2 separate regions of the Homo sapiens genome follow, and region 1 is linked to region 2. The links come from fine-mapping of genetic effects on gene expression. Tissue or cell type: fibroblasts. Region 2 holds a variant in brackets; the other region holds the start of a gene. All regions are shown on one strand. Distances are between the middles of the regions.

Region 1 (8,640 bases), 24 kb before region 2:
AGTTTTTGTTGAAGTTTGAGCTGTCCAAATTAGTTCATAGGCCTGATATGTTATTTTTCCATTTTTACCAAAAAGACAAAATATATTTTATTATTTTAAGATAAAGTGATTATTTTAAGCCCTGATTCATTATATGTGAGTGGGAGAGGTGAACTCATATATAAAAACAAACAGAATTTCCATTAAAAATAAAAGAGATCAAATCATTACATAAAGAAAGAAGGAACATTGCACAGTAGCGTTTGAAGAGATGCCAGAGATACATAAAGATATAGTCATTTGGTCTACTTTTTAGATAGATTGTTTTACAGCAAGCATTTTCAACTCAATATGTATTTTACCTAGAACTATTCCACTAAGCATCCTGTATATATTAGGGAGACTCTTTCAATCACTCTATATCAACTGTCCCCCAATACTTATTTTGTTTCATATTGCTGGTTTTACACGACATCCTTGATTAATTTTCAGGCCTTGAGGTGCTACTTATTAAATTAAGGATACAGCCCACTAAATTAATAAATTATTACAGTGGAGGCACTCTTGTCTTCTGCATGTATAAGTGCATTGCTTAAATTACTCTCAGGGAATAATTTACACATGAAGAGGCACTGGTGGTTAAAAAAGCTCTGTGTATTTCTTATCTCTGGAAATAGTCCTGGACTAGGTGCTCAAACGGCTATCAAAGCAATCTTTTTTTCAAAATAGTAATGAGTCTTACCATTCTAGTGTTCCCACACTATCCTAGAATCATGAATTAAATATAATGTTAAACATGTAACATTTTGAACCAAAAATTTCCATAAGAAATGGGGAGATGATTTCAACTGAGAATTGCTCATGATCTTGAAAAGACTTAGCTTTCTTTCATTGTGGGATTTTTTTTTTTCTCCCTAAAAGAGCTGTAAAAAAGTGAACATACAAAATACTTCAGATCAAGAAAAAGGAAAGTAGGAACTGGCTGCTGTTGCAAGAAAGATATCTGCCTCTCCCCACCTTTTAAGTATTAAAAGGTGGAATTAAGGACAATGACTCCTGGCTTCTAATCTCATGCCACTGTTTTTCCTGTCCTTGGGCTGTTCATGTCAGGTTTCTATGCTCCTCGCTTATATATGACACGCATCTTATCCCAAATTTAGCTGTTATGAAATTTAAAAAAAAAAAAGTTTTTGGCGAAACTTCTCCCCTGGTTTATAAACTCTGATATCAGGAATCCTGTCATTCTTACAGTCTTAGGGCCTAACTCTCTGCCTGAGACGTGGAATGATTTTGTGAATAAACACATGGATGCAGTACACAGAAAAAGGTGCACAATTATGGAAGAAGAATCCTTAATTACTTTGAGTCTGATTTTTGCAAAATGTCTATTTAGAGTCTGGCACATTTTCTAGTTTTTTCCATGCTTCTTCTTCCTCTTTTCTCCCCAAGTCTATACAGCAATGACGGGAAATAAATGGTAAATTTTTATTGATTTGAATTTGTGCATCAATTATCTATCACAACAAATAGATAAGTTTATTTTAGGATGCTCCTTAACACTCTAATTACACGTTAAAGGCCCTCTCTTTGTTCTGCCAGAAACATGGAAACTGGCTTTAGCTTCCAGACTAAAGAAAACAATTGCAAATAAAAAGGCTGGAGCCAAAATGATGGTGGTAGGGCAATGGTGATGGTAGTGGTGGTAGTGATCTGTCACAGACACTGTTCTCTTTTATTCTTCATCACGATTTTTATTTGATATGTTAATTACTTTTCTGATCTTCAAACTAACCCCATGGTGCTTCATACTGTGCTATATACAACAGTATGAATTTTGGTAAGATAATTATTCTTTGGATAAGTAGATGATTTTATCCCTCACCACTTCCATTTTAGTTATTATATTACTATTTCTGTATTTAGCACTGAAGTTTGTCTTAAAATTTCTTTACAGTACATTTTCTATAACCACATTGTCAAGTACACAAAAGGTTATTTTCCACATTTTTACCTCACGTTAAAGTGTGAAGATCTGCACAGGAAATTAATCGATTTTAATTGTTTTTAATGGCAAGCTTATTAAAATAGGTTGTAATTAATAAATTGACAGACTTGCATAAATTTCTTTGTCCAAAGTTGAAGGGAGAGTATTCAGTCTTGTGTTTTCTTTTCTTTCTTTTCTCCCCCTTCCTGATCTTTTTGTTGTGAAGGGGTCACGTAAGGACGTCCGTGGAAGAGCTCCGTGCGCCATCTACTGACGGAATCTAAATGTCCAGTATTTGGAGATTGGGAGTAACTACGTTGGGTTGTTAGAGCATTCTTTGAGGAAGGAGGGGTACTGGGAAAATACCCTTTCAGACTCTATGGCTTATTAGTGATTGCTGGAATAAATCTGAATTCAGCAAACACATAATTCAAAAAAGAGACCTCTATCTGTTGTGCGGGTACAAGTTTTGGAGACAATCTCAAGAGAGTCCGGTGGCTGGCGCCGGAAGAAGTTAAACCCTGAAATGAACTCAAACGGGGAATGGGATTGTTGTTTTTTGCCTGTGTCCTGAGCTACACTCGCTGTTAATGGTTACTTCTTAATAAGAAATGGCTTTACTAATGGCACGTCCAGATAACCTTTAGTTTCCAATACTATTATTACAAAGGACTGCTCTCAAATTTGATTATTTTATGAAAAGTTTAATAATGCACAATAAATAGGTCCCCCCTTCACGTAGATACTACCCACACAGCTTGTCTCTGCGAATATAAACGTAGTCCTTGTACATACATACAGACACAGCGACGCATATACCTACAGGATGATATGCAGTTATGTATATGTGTGTCAGTTGACAAATCTAAGCCCTTGGATTTAGATTAAAATGTTTCTACCTTCAGTCGTTTGCTCCATTCTATGCTAAATCCTGTAGAAGGCTGGGAAGAACTGGGGACCTCAAGCCAAAGAAGTTTCTTGATTATAACTGACAGGCAGCGGAATATCAGTTTTAGGGAATCAAAAGTTGAGTTGGAAGGCTGCTGGTTTGGAAACTAAGGTTGGTTCCAAGTGGTCCGACCTGATTCCCAGGATCTTTGTGAGAGCTGCTGGGAGAACTGAAAATTAACAGCGAGGACACAGGACGCCCTAGGTAACGTCCTCCCCGCTATTCTGCTCTTCTCAATTCAAGGGCCGAGACAACTTGCTTTTGTGGAAAAGGGAAGTAAAGGGAAAAGAGGAAAGCAAGGAAGTTCAGTCAGAAAGAGGAAGAGGGACAAAGAGGAAAGAAAGGGACAAAGAGGAAAGAAAGGGACAAAGAGGAAAGAAAGAGGGACAAAGAGGAAAGGCAAGGAGAAGAGAAGGAAAAATCAAGGTTCAGCAAGAAGTTGGAAGGCGAGGGAAAAAGGGGAGTAAAGAGAAGGCAAAAGAGGTCTAAGGGCTAGGAAGATGCAAGGATCTTTTTTTAACGAACCAAAGTCACATCCATCTTTCACTTTCAAATCAATCGTCTAGATCTTATCCGTTTCCTTTTTAAAGGTTATCTGCGTCTGTAAAGGAAGCCAGTAGTTGATACTCCTCTCCGCGCCCCACGCGTGGCCGCGCTGTTCTATCTCCGGCCACTGAGATCAAATACAACGCGAGTGAGAACATTTGCAGAGGCGCGACTCTGGGAACACTCCTGCGACTGGCTGTCACCCGGGAGTCTAACCGGATTAATACTCAGAGATGGATTACGCTGGTTGTCACCAATACGCCTAAAGATTATAATCCAATTTACGCACATTACAGTCAGTATTAACTTTATCTGCTATTTTAAGACTCCCGGTTGCCCCGCGCGTCCTCAGAGGACAATCCTCCACGTTCTGATGCAACTCAGTAGGCTGTCAGGAGGGGAAGCCCCCCGAAGAAAACAACTCCAAGCCTGGTCCCCGAGGGTCTGTACCCGGCACTCCCAGGTGTCTTGCTTTCACCTGGGCACCGCTTTATGAAGCTTCCCAGCCGGGGATTACCAAAGCGGAAGGCGTTCCCTTGCAAGGAAATAGCATCCTTGTTTCTCCCTTGTTCATTTCATTTTCAAATTTTCGGTGGCGGTGGCAGAAGGGCGGGGAGTGAGGGTGGCGGGCGGGTGCCTGTGAGTGGATGGGGCAGGGGGCCAGGGGATCGTTGCGGGTTAGAACAGCCTCAGTCATTGCTATTTTCATGCTCGTTTTTTGCAGGATGGCATTTCTCTCGCTCTCTTTAAGTAAGTTTGTTTGGGTGTGAGTTCTTGTCTTTTCAGCACAAAACCACAGAAATACGTGGTGGAAAGTAAAAGAAAGCCCACTCCCTCCTCCCCGTGCGTACTAGCTAAGGACTTGATTTAACACCCCCTCTCCGGCTGCTGAGGGCTCTAAGCAGTGGCTACATTCCAGCAGTTTTAATCCGTTTTTTATTGTAGGGCGAGCAGAGTTTACACAGGGGCTGGGATGGCTCCCCAGCTGGCCGCTCTCCCCACTCCTGCGTCCCCTCCCTGCCACCCCCCCAGCAGGAACCTGTTACTTTAAGCGAGGCTTTCCAGTGTGGCGCTGCGGGCCGCCGGGGTTTCGGGAGGTGGCAGGTGATTGGCTCTTTCGAGCTCCCCCTGGCTCGCTCGCTCTGCCTCCCCGCGCGCTCCGCCCCGCCCGCAAGCCCTCCCTCCGCCCTGTGAGGCTCGGAGCCCGGGTGTCAGGCGCCACGGCGCATGCTCCGCAATCATCTTCTTTACCCTGGAGCTGCTGCTGCTGCTGCTGCTTTTGCTTTTGGGGCTGAGTTTAATAAGCGAGCGAGCGAGCAAGCGAGCGCGGGGGGAAAAAGGCAGAGAATGTCCGCCATCTACCCTCCGCTCCTGGGCGCGCTCTCATTCATAGCAGCCTCTTCATGAATTACAGCTGAGGGGGGGCGGAGGAGGGGGGGGTACCACACAACACCCCAGCAAACCTCCGGGCCCCCAGGCATGGCTAGCTCGGTAAGTACGCGCAAAAATAATAATAAAAGCCCTCCCCCACTTTCCTTCCTCGCCCTGCGCCGCCGCAGCCCAGACAGCGCCAGCGCTCCGCGGTTCCAATTAGAGAAAGGTTGGTACGGCTTGCAGGGAGCTGCCGCCTCTCCCTCAGCCTCCGCTCCCCTCCTCCCCCACCCCCCCCCGGCGCGCACACAGACACACAGACACACACACACTCACACACGCTCACACTCGCCCCTCCACCCCCCGCGCCTCCCTCCCTCCTCGCCTCTTTGCAGTCACAAGAAGCGCACTCACACACTCCCTCTCGCTCACACGCGCGCACTCACACACACACACACACACGGTGGAAGGAGGCGAATAATAACTCAGCCATATTTCAGCCGCCGCCGCCGGGAGCTGCGGGCACAGTCCGGGGACGCGGCGAGCAGCCTCGGCGGCCGCACCTCCGCAAAGCGCCGCGGCCGCTACGATGGTGCGTTCTCCGCGGCGCGCGTGTGTGAGCCGAAGTGTGCGGGGCTGACAGCGGCGGGGCCGCACGCAACTTTGCCCCAGCGCCGGGAGGTGCTGAGCGCGAGCCGAGGCTCGGCGGCTGTCCGCCCGCCGCCCTGCCTTTCTGAATTTCATTTTTTGGGGGGAGGTGGGAGATACTTTGGAGCCACTTGGGCTCTTGAAAGTGTGTTGCGGGGGCTCGGTTCGACTGGCCTCGCCGATCGCGTGGGGCTTTTCGCTGGGGGGTGCGGGGTGCTCTAAGTTATGGATGCCTCGGCGTGTTTTCCTGCGGGCGTGTGTGTGTGTTTCAGTGTGTATGACGACGTCTCATTTTTGTTGTGCACGAACCCCGTGGCAAGAGCACGGGAGTTTGTGCCCATCAGCAGAGGCTGCCTGTAGTTTCCATTTCGCCTGGCACAGCGCTCCACACGCACGCACACACACGTACACAAAGACTTCCTCGGCGTGTGCCTGTCGCCGCGGTACTTTCGGGGAGGGGGCTCGCCAGGAGCCCTTCGGTCCCCCTGGGTCCCAGCCACCTCCCCTCCCACGCCGGGAAACCGCCCCGGCATCGCCTTCTGATTTGTTTCCGATGCATTTGTTGTCGTGCTTGTCGTGGCTGAGTGTGTTCTCCCTCTTTTCCCCGACCCCCTTCCCGACTGGGGATAACATTCCGTTACAATCCTGTCCGATGTAGATGCGGGGCCCGGGGCGCCTGGGGCCAAGCCGGGCCGGGCGGGCGGGTATATTTGGGGGTGTGGAGTGTGCGCGCCCACGCGCGTGAAACGTGGATGCAGAGGGCACCGCCGTTTCCTTTTATGTGCGTTTCAAGAAGGAGGAAAAAAATGTCAGGCGCAACGTTCACTGCCGAAACCTCGCCTTCCTGTTATTCACGGCTGTCTCTCCTCCCCCTGCCCGCAGTGTGCCGTGCAGGTGAAGCTGGAGCTGGGGCACCGCGCCCAGGTGAGGAAAAAACCCACCGTGGAGGGCTTCACCCACGACTGGATGGTGTTCGTACGCGGTCCGGAGCACAGTAACATACAGCACTTTGTGGAGAAAGTCGTCTTCCACTTGCACGAAAGCTTTCCTAGGCCAAAAAGAGGTAGGGCTCGAATACAAAAGGGTCTTGATAAAAAATGTCTTTGAAACAATCGCTTGGCCCGGGCGGTCCCGCTGTCCCGCTCCCCGCCCCCCGCGCCGCGCTCGCCGGCGTAGCCTCGGGATCCGGGTGCGCGGCGCCGCGCGGGCCAGGTCCCGGCTCCCGCCTGCCCGCGCGCGCGCCACTTCGGCTTGGTGAAAGTCACCGCAGAGAAAGGACCGTCAGGTGTCGAGTGTTTATTCATCCCAAGCCAGCCCTCACCAGTCCTCTGGGGTTAGCCGCGGGTTCTGTGGGGAAGGTGCAATTAGTTGTTGAGTTTGGAGATGTGGGGAATCGGGCTGGAGGGAATAAACACTTTGCGCGTGTGTGTGTGTGTGTGTGTGTGTGTGTGTGTGTGTGTGTGTTTTCCTAGAGAAATTAAGATTTACCTGTGTTATTAGCAAAGAATGTATTGGATGTAGTTATTGTTCGGTCTTGGCAAGTCGGTTCTCTTTAGGGTCTTCTGTGCTTTCCTGTCTGTGTATGAGGCACCAGGTGCCAGTTGCCATAGACTTTTCTTTTTGTGGCTTAGCCACCGCCACACCCACTCCAGTCTGGATTTTATGTTTACTTGGGGGGCTTACTCGTTCCTCCCTCCCACCCCCGCGTGCCACTTGACTGCTCCTTTGATTCTGAGCAACGTTCCAAAGTGTCTGCCGGATGTGATCTGCAGGGAGACTGTTCTTGCAAAGGTCGAAGCTAAGTTGAAGAGGAACGATGTGGAGGAAGCCTTTTGCTTTAGTCCCTCCCCACCTTGGTTCTTAGCCTTGGAGTCTAGTTTGCATAATCCTACTGGGCCTCTGTGGTCCCAAACATTTTCCATAATGGGCAGGACAGTTTTGGAAAAAAGAAACGGAGTGTCATTTTGAAAGAAATTTAAAGAGGGTTTGAGAAATACCGATTTCTTTTCCCTTCAACCTCTGGAAAACTAATGTCTGGTTGTTTTAGTTGGATTAGTGAAGGTAACAGTACAAATACAATAAGGTGCTTTGTTTGTGAGCAGGTTTATTTATCTAAGTCGACACAATGGTTAGTAGTTATCTTCCATTTGATCCGTAATCTTTATTGGCATCTAGAACTCCTGTCGTTTCTTAGAGTAATATCATAATAAATCCATTCTGCTTAGAGCTGTGTGGAAATTATTGAACATTCAGGGGGCTGAATAAAGAAAGGAGAAGCGTCGTGTGCCTTAGAGGTGGCAGAGGTTTGTATTGGTGCTTAGTTTTGTTTCCAGAGCTCATGTAATGGGAAGTAGGATTGTATTTTTTGCCTTTAGTGGTTTGGTTTATAACTCCTCCTGAAAACTTGAACGGTTGAATTTGATGGTCTTTGTTGGATGGTTAATAAATAAATCCAGTTTCTTATAGAGGGCTAGAAATATGCATGGCCTATAGGAAATAACATTTGAAATTTGTTAGCATTTTATGTTAAAATATAGTCAGAGATTATTATATTTCATATTTCCTCCAAACTGTGGTAAGGATGAGCGATGTCAAATTTCTATCGCTGATGAGGTTGATATGCTGCTTCTCGGATTCTCTCTCTCCCTTTCCATGTGTCTGTAGAGCAGAGGAGTTTAAACAAAAGAAACCACTTTCTAAGATCCTTGGTACACATTATTACTACTACTTGGCTGCAGTTCACTTCAAGGTGAAATAAGCTTTTAAAAAGCAACATTTATTAGGAAAATTAACTCAGTTGGCAGAAGATGTAGCTCTTAAGGTAACTTTGTTTAGGCACCTTGACAATCAACAAATTGGCATTATGAAATTAAAGATGATCAACCTCTATTTTACCATTGTTTTTCTGCTTCAGTGGATGTGTGCATTGATGTTATTTTTATTTCCTATACTTAATGATTTTCTGTCTGCCCTGAGGGAACATGAGGGTGCTGCTCACATAGGCCACACCTGGGAGTTGTTGCTAGGCGTGGTAAGCTGCTTGATAGCAGTGATGACTTCTCAGAGGTCTCTGGTGAGAGATGTCTGCTTGTTGGTTGGATTCCTCAATTTTTATACTCAACTGTGGAGGTTCTCTATGCAGTCTATAAGCCATTGTTTTAAA
Region 2 (8,000 bases):
AGTCAAAACATATAATTTGCCCATACATACAATTCCTTTATTGAAATTCTGACCACATTTAACCTTATTGAAAGCTTCTAGCTTGAATGAGTTTTGCTACATTGAATAAATACTATGCTGTATAGTTATTTATGTGCTTAAGAAGCTGAACTTTCATTCCATCCCAGTAAGTTCCCATGGGATAAGTTATTTTAGTAAATCAGAAAATTTCTCTGAAAGCAAAGTAATTCTTAATTTTTGGAGGCTTGAAAATGGAGAAAATAGCCATACGAGTTAGCGGGAAGAAGTTCTCATTGATTCATATCGCTAAAAAATAATTTAAAATACTTGTACTCTTAAATTATCGTGAGGGGGAAGAACCCACCACAGTGCTGCTGAATTGTTTTACTTCTGGGATTATATCTTTGTGTGTTTATAGGAGTGGGAACATTTTATCTTCTGTGTTTCTGTTGAGGTTGTTTTTCAGCAGTGCCCCAAGAAAAGTCCTGGAGTCTAGCTTTGAAGCCCGGTGGACAAGCTGGATATCAAAGAGCCAGAGGAATTCAGCAGTAATTGTTTTATGACTGGCCAGAAATCAGACCTATTTGTATAGGTAGCACACAAAATAGCTGTGATTTGACAATTTGGTGCTATTTATACCCACCATAAAAAGAGAAAAGAAAAAGTTAAAGGGATATTTTGGAAACAGGAACTAAGCTGTAAATGCAAATTGCTTCATTTTCTCAAAGGAACAAAAAAAGAAAGGGTTTAGGAAGTTTTTATTGAAGCTACATTATTGAGGATCTGTCTGCTTTCAGGACACTCAATATTGTACTCACATTGAAACTACACTTCTTTCTGTTTGCAGTTTTTTCCCTATTCCCATCTGACTAAAATTATTTTTGTGGAGCAAAAGAAACTCTGGGGGAGGAGGGATAGTGGAGTCACAAAGTTTCCAACTCTATCTTAGTAGACATTTACAGTTTCATATTGCTGTTGTTATTTAGCTTGGGGTAAGAACAGTCTGCTGTTGCTACAGCTAAGTATTTTTCCATATAAAAGTTACATATTTTCCACAGTCAGTTGCAGATCATTTATTATAGTGAAGTGTGAGACTTTGCTAGGTAAGTTTTCATGTGTTTTTTTAGAAACACGCAGAATAAACTTTCTACTTTCTATGACTATTTTTGATCTGGAAGCCAGAGACATCTTTTTGAATACAAAACGCCTTAATTATTTGTTCCTCTCACCTGGAGAATATTCTGAACTAAAGGTGGGCAGTGTATCATGGTATGTCTCTACTTAAGTGGGTAGCCCAAAGTGAAGTTTGTTTCCAGAATGTCATTCTGACGTTTTGACGTTGTCAAATGCTTCATTGTTTTGCCTCCAAACCCCAGCCCCTAGAGCAATCTGAGTCTGGGGGCAACGGTGCAGAGAAAAAGCAAACATGTCTGTGATTGACTACACTTTTTTTTTATTTAAAGAAACCCTAGAAATGCCTTAGGGACCCCTGGGGCTTTGTCACAATTTAAAGCCATTTTACCATTGAAGGTGCCGTTGAATTTTGACTGTATTAATTTGCTTTGGTTTAAATTTTTTCCCATTGGATTCTGATTCTCCCATAATAAGTAGAGTGATCTATGTCATGTATACCTTACTTTCTAGGGGAAGGCTCTATAGTTATGGCTGGATGAAAATAGTTCACTGGGGTAGGATAAAAGAAGTGGAAATGGGTGGAGATAATTGGGTGTTCAGGCAGTCAGTTCTGGCTTTGAAAGAAGAGTAAGGTTTAAGATGGTGTGTGAAGGATCAGAAGCTTCTGAGTAAGGATTTAAAATGGGAATCTCCCAAAAGCCTAAAATCTAGTTGGATTTCAAGGTGGGTTCCTTAATCGGGAAATAGGTGACATCACTCTATAGAGAAGAAACATTTGGATTGCTGTTATTCCTGAGGAGTGTGAACACTCAGATGGGAAAAGAAGGATACATCCTTACAGAATATTTTCATGGGTTGAGAATGTACACCAGTTGGGGTTGGTTAAGGAAGGGGTTGTATTTCTAAAGTATTGATTACTTATTCAGCCAACATTGAGCACCATCTATGTGCCAGGCACTGCAGTAAACATGGAGGATAGCAACAAAACAGACGTGGTTCTTACCTTCTGGAAATGCTTAGTCTGGCATCAGGCATGTTTTCCATACACACAAACACAATAACAGCACAACAAGATGAGTGCTTTTATGAAGCTATGAAAAATGAAGCTGTGGAAACAGAGTTCTGAGTGTTTAGTACTGCCCAGGTATCAGAATTTGAACTAAGTGTTTTTTTTTTGTTTTTTGTTTTTTTTTTTTGGACAACATTGCAAGTGAAATGTTTGATAAGAAAGAGAATCAGTGTGGATTTAAAAAAATTATCCTGAATCTGTCAAAGATGGATTTTCATCTCTTTGAGGGTTCTCTTTATAAGGCTGTATAAGTGCAGTGTTCTTGCAATTTCTGAACTCACTGGGTTAGCATCGTACAATATAATATTATATAGGTGAAAAAAGAAGAAAGCTAAGCAATTTATAGTTACTGAAGGTTTAATTTTACACCTTGTTATTTTACAGACGTGGCATCCAAGACTGAAGATTAACTAACTTGCCCATGGTCCATGTGGCCTATGAATATGGTGACTCTATGTCCTGTTTTGCTGAGGACAGTCCAAGTATATACCTATTGTCCTGTGTTGGTGTCAGAACTATTGCTCTTTGGATGATAGATTATATAGTCACCCTTTTTTAGAGTGGCATAACTAAGATTTAAACTCAGGCCTTTTGACTCCAAGTCCTAAGCTCATCACTGTTTTACTCTGTTTATACCATGCTTCTAGGTCATATCTCTACTTTTAGGTTGGTCTAATGAGAAGGATTCTGAGGCCTAAGTCTGGCTTAGTACAATATTCAGTTCTTGGTTATGTTTACCATGGACAATGGGGAGAAACATGAGAGGTTTCATGCTACCTTTTTTTTTTTTTTTTAAACATCTGGTTACTAATTGTTTCAGAATGT[G/A]ATTTAGTTTTCCTTCAGAAATTCTGAAGGCATTTGAGGAACTTTATGTCTTAGGATTGTATTTATAAATATTAGTCATCATTGCATGATACTCAAAGAAAATTCTCTTTTTTTTTTTTTTTTGGAGACAGAGTCTTACTCTGTCGCCCAGGCTGACGTGCAGTGGCACGATCTTGGCTCACTGCAACCTCCATCTCCCTGGTTCAAGTGATTCTCCTGTCTCAGCTTCCTGAGTAGCTGGGACTGCAGGCGCGTGCCACCATGCCCAGCTAATTTTTGTATTTTTAGTAGAGACAGGGTTTCACCATGTTGGCTAGCATGGTCTCGATCTCTTGACCTCGTGATCTGCCCGCCTTGGCCTCCCAAAGTACTGGGATTACAGGCGTGAGCCACCGCGCCTGGCCTACTCAAAGAAAATTCTAATGATTTGAGTCCTCTGGATACGTGGAAATTTGGCACATCTCTTAATCATTGAATATTGTGCTTTTCCCTTTAATTTTTGTTTCCCTTTCTTAACCTAATCAGAAGCCTAAAGCAGCAGAATAGGGTTTGAGGAAAGTAACTCTAATTTGGAAAAGAAAATTGGAAACTTATGTTGTGATTTGCTTAAATTGATTAGCATTGCCACCAGGTTTTCTGGACAGCTTTTGAGTGAATCACCTTTATTTGGTTTCACTTAAATAGCTCAGCACTTCATAAAGGTAGTTTTAGAAGTGTACTGTCTATCAGGTAAATTAGCTAAAACTTAGATGGATTCAGTTTACTGATCATCACTTCTGGTAATTAGATAACTTTATTTTGTTTTGTGTCATTTGTCTTATATACTGTCTGAGCAGTGCTTCACTGAAGGCTGTAGTGTCCTCACCTAAAGAATGACTAATGGCAACTGTTAGAATGATAAAAGCAAAACTAAAGCCATTTTTGAGAACTTACAGGTTGGATGGTTATTGGGGTGGGATGGAAATGCCTTATGTTGCACATCCTACTTCTCTTCCAAATTTACACATCTAGTTAGACATATGGCTTCTCTGCCCTCAGAGACTCATATGTGGGGCGAAGGGGAGATAGATTTGTAAGTGGATAAATTTCAGTGTAATTTAAATAAGTTATAGTTTGGTAGGAACGGAGTTTTTTGGGAACATAAAGTGGTAAGTAGAGATTGAAGATGAGCACAGTAATGTTTCCATTTATATAGCAGATGTTTGAACCTGAATCTTTCATATTTTATATCATTTTTGGTTTCTACAGCATTTTATGTTGGTTTGCTTCTCTTTTCAGAGACTGTTTATGACCCAACTTGAACAATGTAATGAAATTCTTCTTTAGCTCAAGCTGTTATGAATCCAAAAATAGATCTGGGCTAAGATTAGACTTTGTGGCACAAATTGTGGTTTGTTAGGTTGTGGCTGTCTTTCTTCCAACAAATAAATGTAAATTAACAATTATTTAGAAGTAAAGCAAATGTTGCTGAGACAGAAACAGGACCTGGTTGATTTTAAATGGTGCTTTGGAACACTAAGCAGATATCTAAGTTTAAAGAACTATTTGGAAAAAAATTGTTTTAGTTAAAAAATATTAGTAAGCTTCTATAGAATGGCAGAATTGGTGACTGCAGTTCTATAGGAACCTTACTTATTGTAATCTCTTACTCCTTTTATTTTCCATTTCTTTTTGTTTCTCTTCTGAAAATTCAAAAGCATGAAATAGGCTTCACAGAAAGAAAAAACAAAGCTAGTAATTACAAGACGCTAAAACTTTCTTATCTTATTGGTCAAGTGCAATACATGACACCACTCTGCAGTAATACTGGTGTTCAGAAGAGTTATGGAAGAATCTAGTAATAAACATAGTAAGAAGAAGGAGGGATGAACCTCATTTGTATGGTTGAAAAGTAGATGGTCTTCTGAGGCTCTTAACAGTATATGAAGGTAAATTTGTTGTAAAGGAAATCTTATTCAGATTTTTAATATGATGTCTATACAAATTACTTGTGGGACAAGGATGATCTATTTCTGCAGTAAGACCTCTAGCTCCTTATGGACAGGATTTTTTTTTTTTTTAAGTCACTGTGTTACTCAGACCTTTGCACATAAGTGGTATTAAATAACAACTTTATAGTAAGACACCTTTGTAAGGCCCTAGATAAATAAAAGTACTTCAGTGGCCTACTGTGTGCCAGGCTGAGTACTGGGTACTCTCCAATAATTACCTTATTAGTCTAATGATCCCTATGAATTGAGGTACTACCTGTACTATCCCCATAATGGATGAATTTATCAAGGTTATAGCATACAAGATTAGTATAAAAAGATAGTATTTCTACGTACTTGCAATGAACAATCTGAAAATGAAATTAAGGAAACAATTTTATTTATAATAGCATCAAAAAGAGTAAAATACTTAGGAACACATTTAACAAAACAGATGTGAAATTTGTGCTGTGAAACTACAAAACATTGTTGAAAGAAATAGAGGACTATTTAAATAAATGAAAAAATATTCCATGTTCATGGATTGGGAGACTTAATATTACGATGGCAATACTCCCCCAAATTGCTTCAGGTTACATACAGTCCCTATCAGTCAGAACTCCAACTGGCTTCTTTGTAAATTGACAAGCTGATTTAAAATTAATGTGTAATTGCAAGGGACCCATAATAATATTTTGTGAGTGAGACTACATTTTTAATGTTTTCAAGCAGCTTATTATTTTATTTTATTTATTTATTTTTTGAGATGGAGTCTTGCTTTGTGGCCCAGCCCAGGCTGGAGTGCAGTGGCACATCTCAGCTCATTGCAACCTCCAGCTCCTGGGCTCAAGCGATTCTCATGCCTCAGCCTCTCAAGTAACTGGGACTACAGGCATGCACCACCATGCCCAGCTAATTTTTTGTATTTTTAGTAGAGACAAGGTCTCACCATGTTGGCCAGGCTGGTCTTGAACTCCTGACCTCAGGTGATCCGCCTGCCTTGGCCTCCCAAAGTGCTGGGATTATAGGCGTGTGCCACCATGCCTGGCCAGAGCTTATTATTTTAAATGAAAACTGCAAATCAGTTTTTAAAAATCAGTCATGAAAATAGGGACGTCTTAAATCAGGGTACTCCTATACATTTAATTAAATGCCATAGTTTTCCTGGTAATTCAGTGTTTTGGGGTAGGTTTAAAGCTTTATAAATTTAATTCCGCAAGCTTTTATTCAGCATTTATTTTTTGTAGTCAAGAAAACATGCTATAAGAAAGTTCAATGGAGGCAATTCCTGATACAGAATTATCTGGTGATAAAAGCTTATAAAATAGTTTTATAAGTTTTTCAAGTTTTCCCTTAAGCCTGCCCATAATTTAAGCTTGTGACTTTTTATATTGTCTTTCATGGCTAGGTTTGTTTATACCCTGCAGCAGTACTGTCTAAAACAATAGCCACTAGACATATGTGGCTTTTAAAATTTAAATTATTTAAAATAAAACATTTAATTCCTCAGTCACTTGCCACATTTGAGGACTTAACAGTCATGGGTAGCTAGTGGCTGCCGTATTGGACAGAGCTAGGTAGAGAAATGGTAACAGATTTCCCGGACTTCTTTTTACAGTGGGATTCAGATAGTATATGTGCTTTTGTGAGGGATAAAAAGTAGAGGAAAAGAATCTGATAAGACTTTTTATATAAAATCGTGTCTTTCTTTTTTTGTGGTTACTGCTACTAGCATTATGACACTTTGTATCTTTCAAACGTCATGTGCTACAATAATCTTTTCTCTAATGGTCTTAGCATCTACTGCTGATCTTTTTTTGATGAGCTTGAATTAACTATTTTATTGGGGTTGCAAATTGGTGATTTTCCTTCTTTGATAACGCTTATGTTTCAAATGATAGATACAGGATCTATTCTATTTTTCCTGTTTATGGTTTTGACAAAATTTTATATTGTGACAAATGTTTCCTGTGTCTGATTTTATGGATAACTTAGTGAAGTATGTGGTAATATAAAATTATAATATAAATTATAAAGTAATATAACCTTATTTTTCCAGTAATTTTTATTTTATTTTATTGTTTTTTGAGATAGGGTCTTGCTCTGTCACTCAGGCTGGAGTGCAGTGGTATGTATGAAGACGATTCACTGCTGCCTCAGTCTCCTGGGATCAAGCGATCCTCCTGTCTCAGCCTCTTGTGTAGCTGGATCCACAGGCACACACCTCCATGCCTGGCTAATTTTTTCTTTTCTTCTTCTTTTTGTAGAGATGGAGATCTCACTTTGTTGCCTAGGCTGGTCTTGAACTCCTTGGCTCAAATAGTCCTCCCGAATTGGCCTCTCAAAGTGCTGGGATGACAGTTGTGAGCCACGGCACCCTGCAACCCCCATGCCCAGTAATTTTTTTTTTAAGTGAAAGTAAGTTTATTAGAGAAGTAAAGAAACAAAAGAATGGCTACTCCATAGGCAGAGCAGCAGTATGAGCTGCTGTTTGGACATTTTTATGGTTATTTCTTGATTATATGCTAAACAAGGGGTGGATTATTCATGAGTTTTATGGGAAGGGGCTGGGCAATTCCTGGAACTGAGGGTTCCTCTCCTTTTTGGACCATACAGGGGAACTTCCTGACATTGCTGTGGCATTTGTAAACTATCTTGGCATTGGTGGGAGTGTCTTTTACCATGCTAATGCGTTATAATTAGCATATAGTGAGCAGTGAGGATGACCAAAGGTCACTTTCATCGCCTTCTTGGTTTTGGTGGGTTTTGGCGGGTTTTGGCTGACTTCTTTACCTCAGTCTGTTTTGTAAGCAGGGTCTTTATGACCTATGTCTTGTGCCAACCTTTTGTCTTATCCTGTGACTAAGACTGCCTTAATCTTCTGGGAATGTAGCCCAGTAATTCTCAGCCTTATTTTACCCAGCCCCTATTCAACATGGACTTGCTCTGGTTCAAACACCTCTGACATATTGCCCCCCTCCCTTTTATAAGAGAACCCTTAA

What was found. PIP is the estimated chance that this variant, and not a neighbour inherited with it, causes the effect.
Region 1: it holds the start of MLLT3, and the variant in region 2 is fine-mapped to the expression of MLLT3 in fibroblasts (GTEx, PIP above 0.99).

Annotation. Positions count from the first base shown.
Region 1 is chr9:20,618,554-20,627,193 of GRCh38, reverse strand. MLLT3 (MLLT3 super elongation complex subunit) reads left to right here and starts at 4,695. Exons shown (of 11, transcript NM_004529.4): 1 at 4,695-4,949; 2 at 6,360-6,540. The coding sequence starts at 4,938. RefSeq lists silencers at 4,097-4,236, 4,257-4,716, 5,137-5,286, 5,357-5,406, 6,627-6,746 and an enhancer at 6,337-6,466.
Region 2 is chr9:20,594,456-20,602,455 of GRCh38, reverse strand. All of the region lies in intron 2 of MLLT3 (MLLT3 super elongation complex subunit), which reads left to right. Among named protein-coding and RNA genes, the nearest start is that of MLLT3, 24 kb to the left of the region's middle. The variant G/A (reference allele first, on the strand shown) is at 3,029.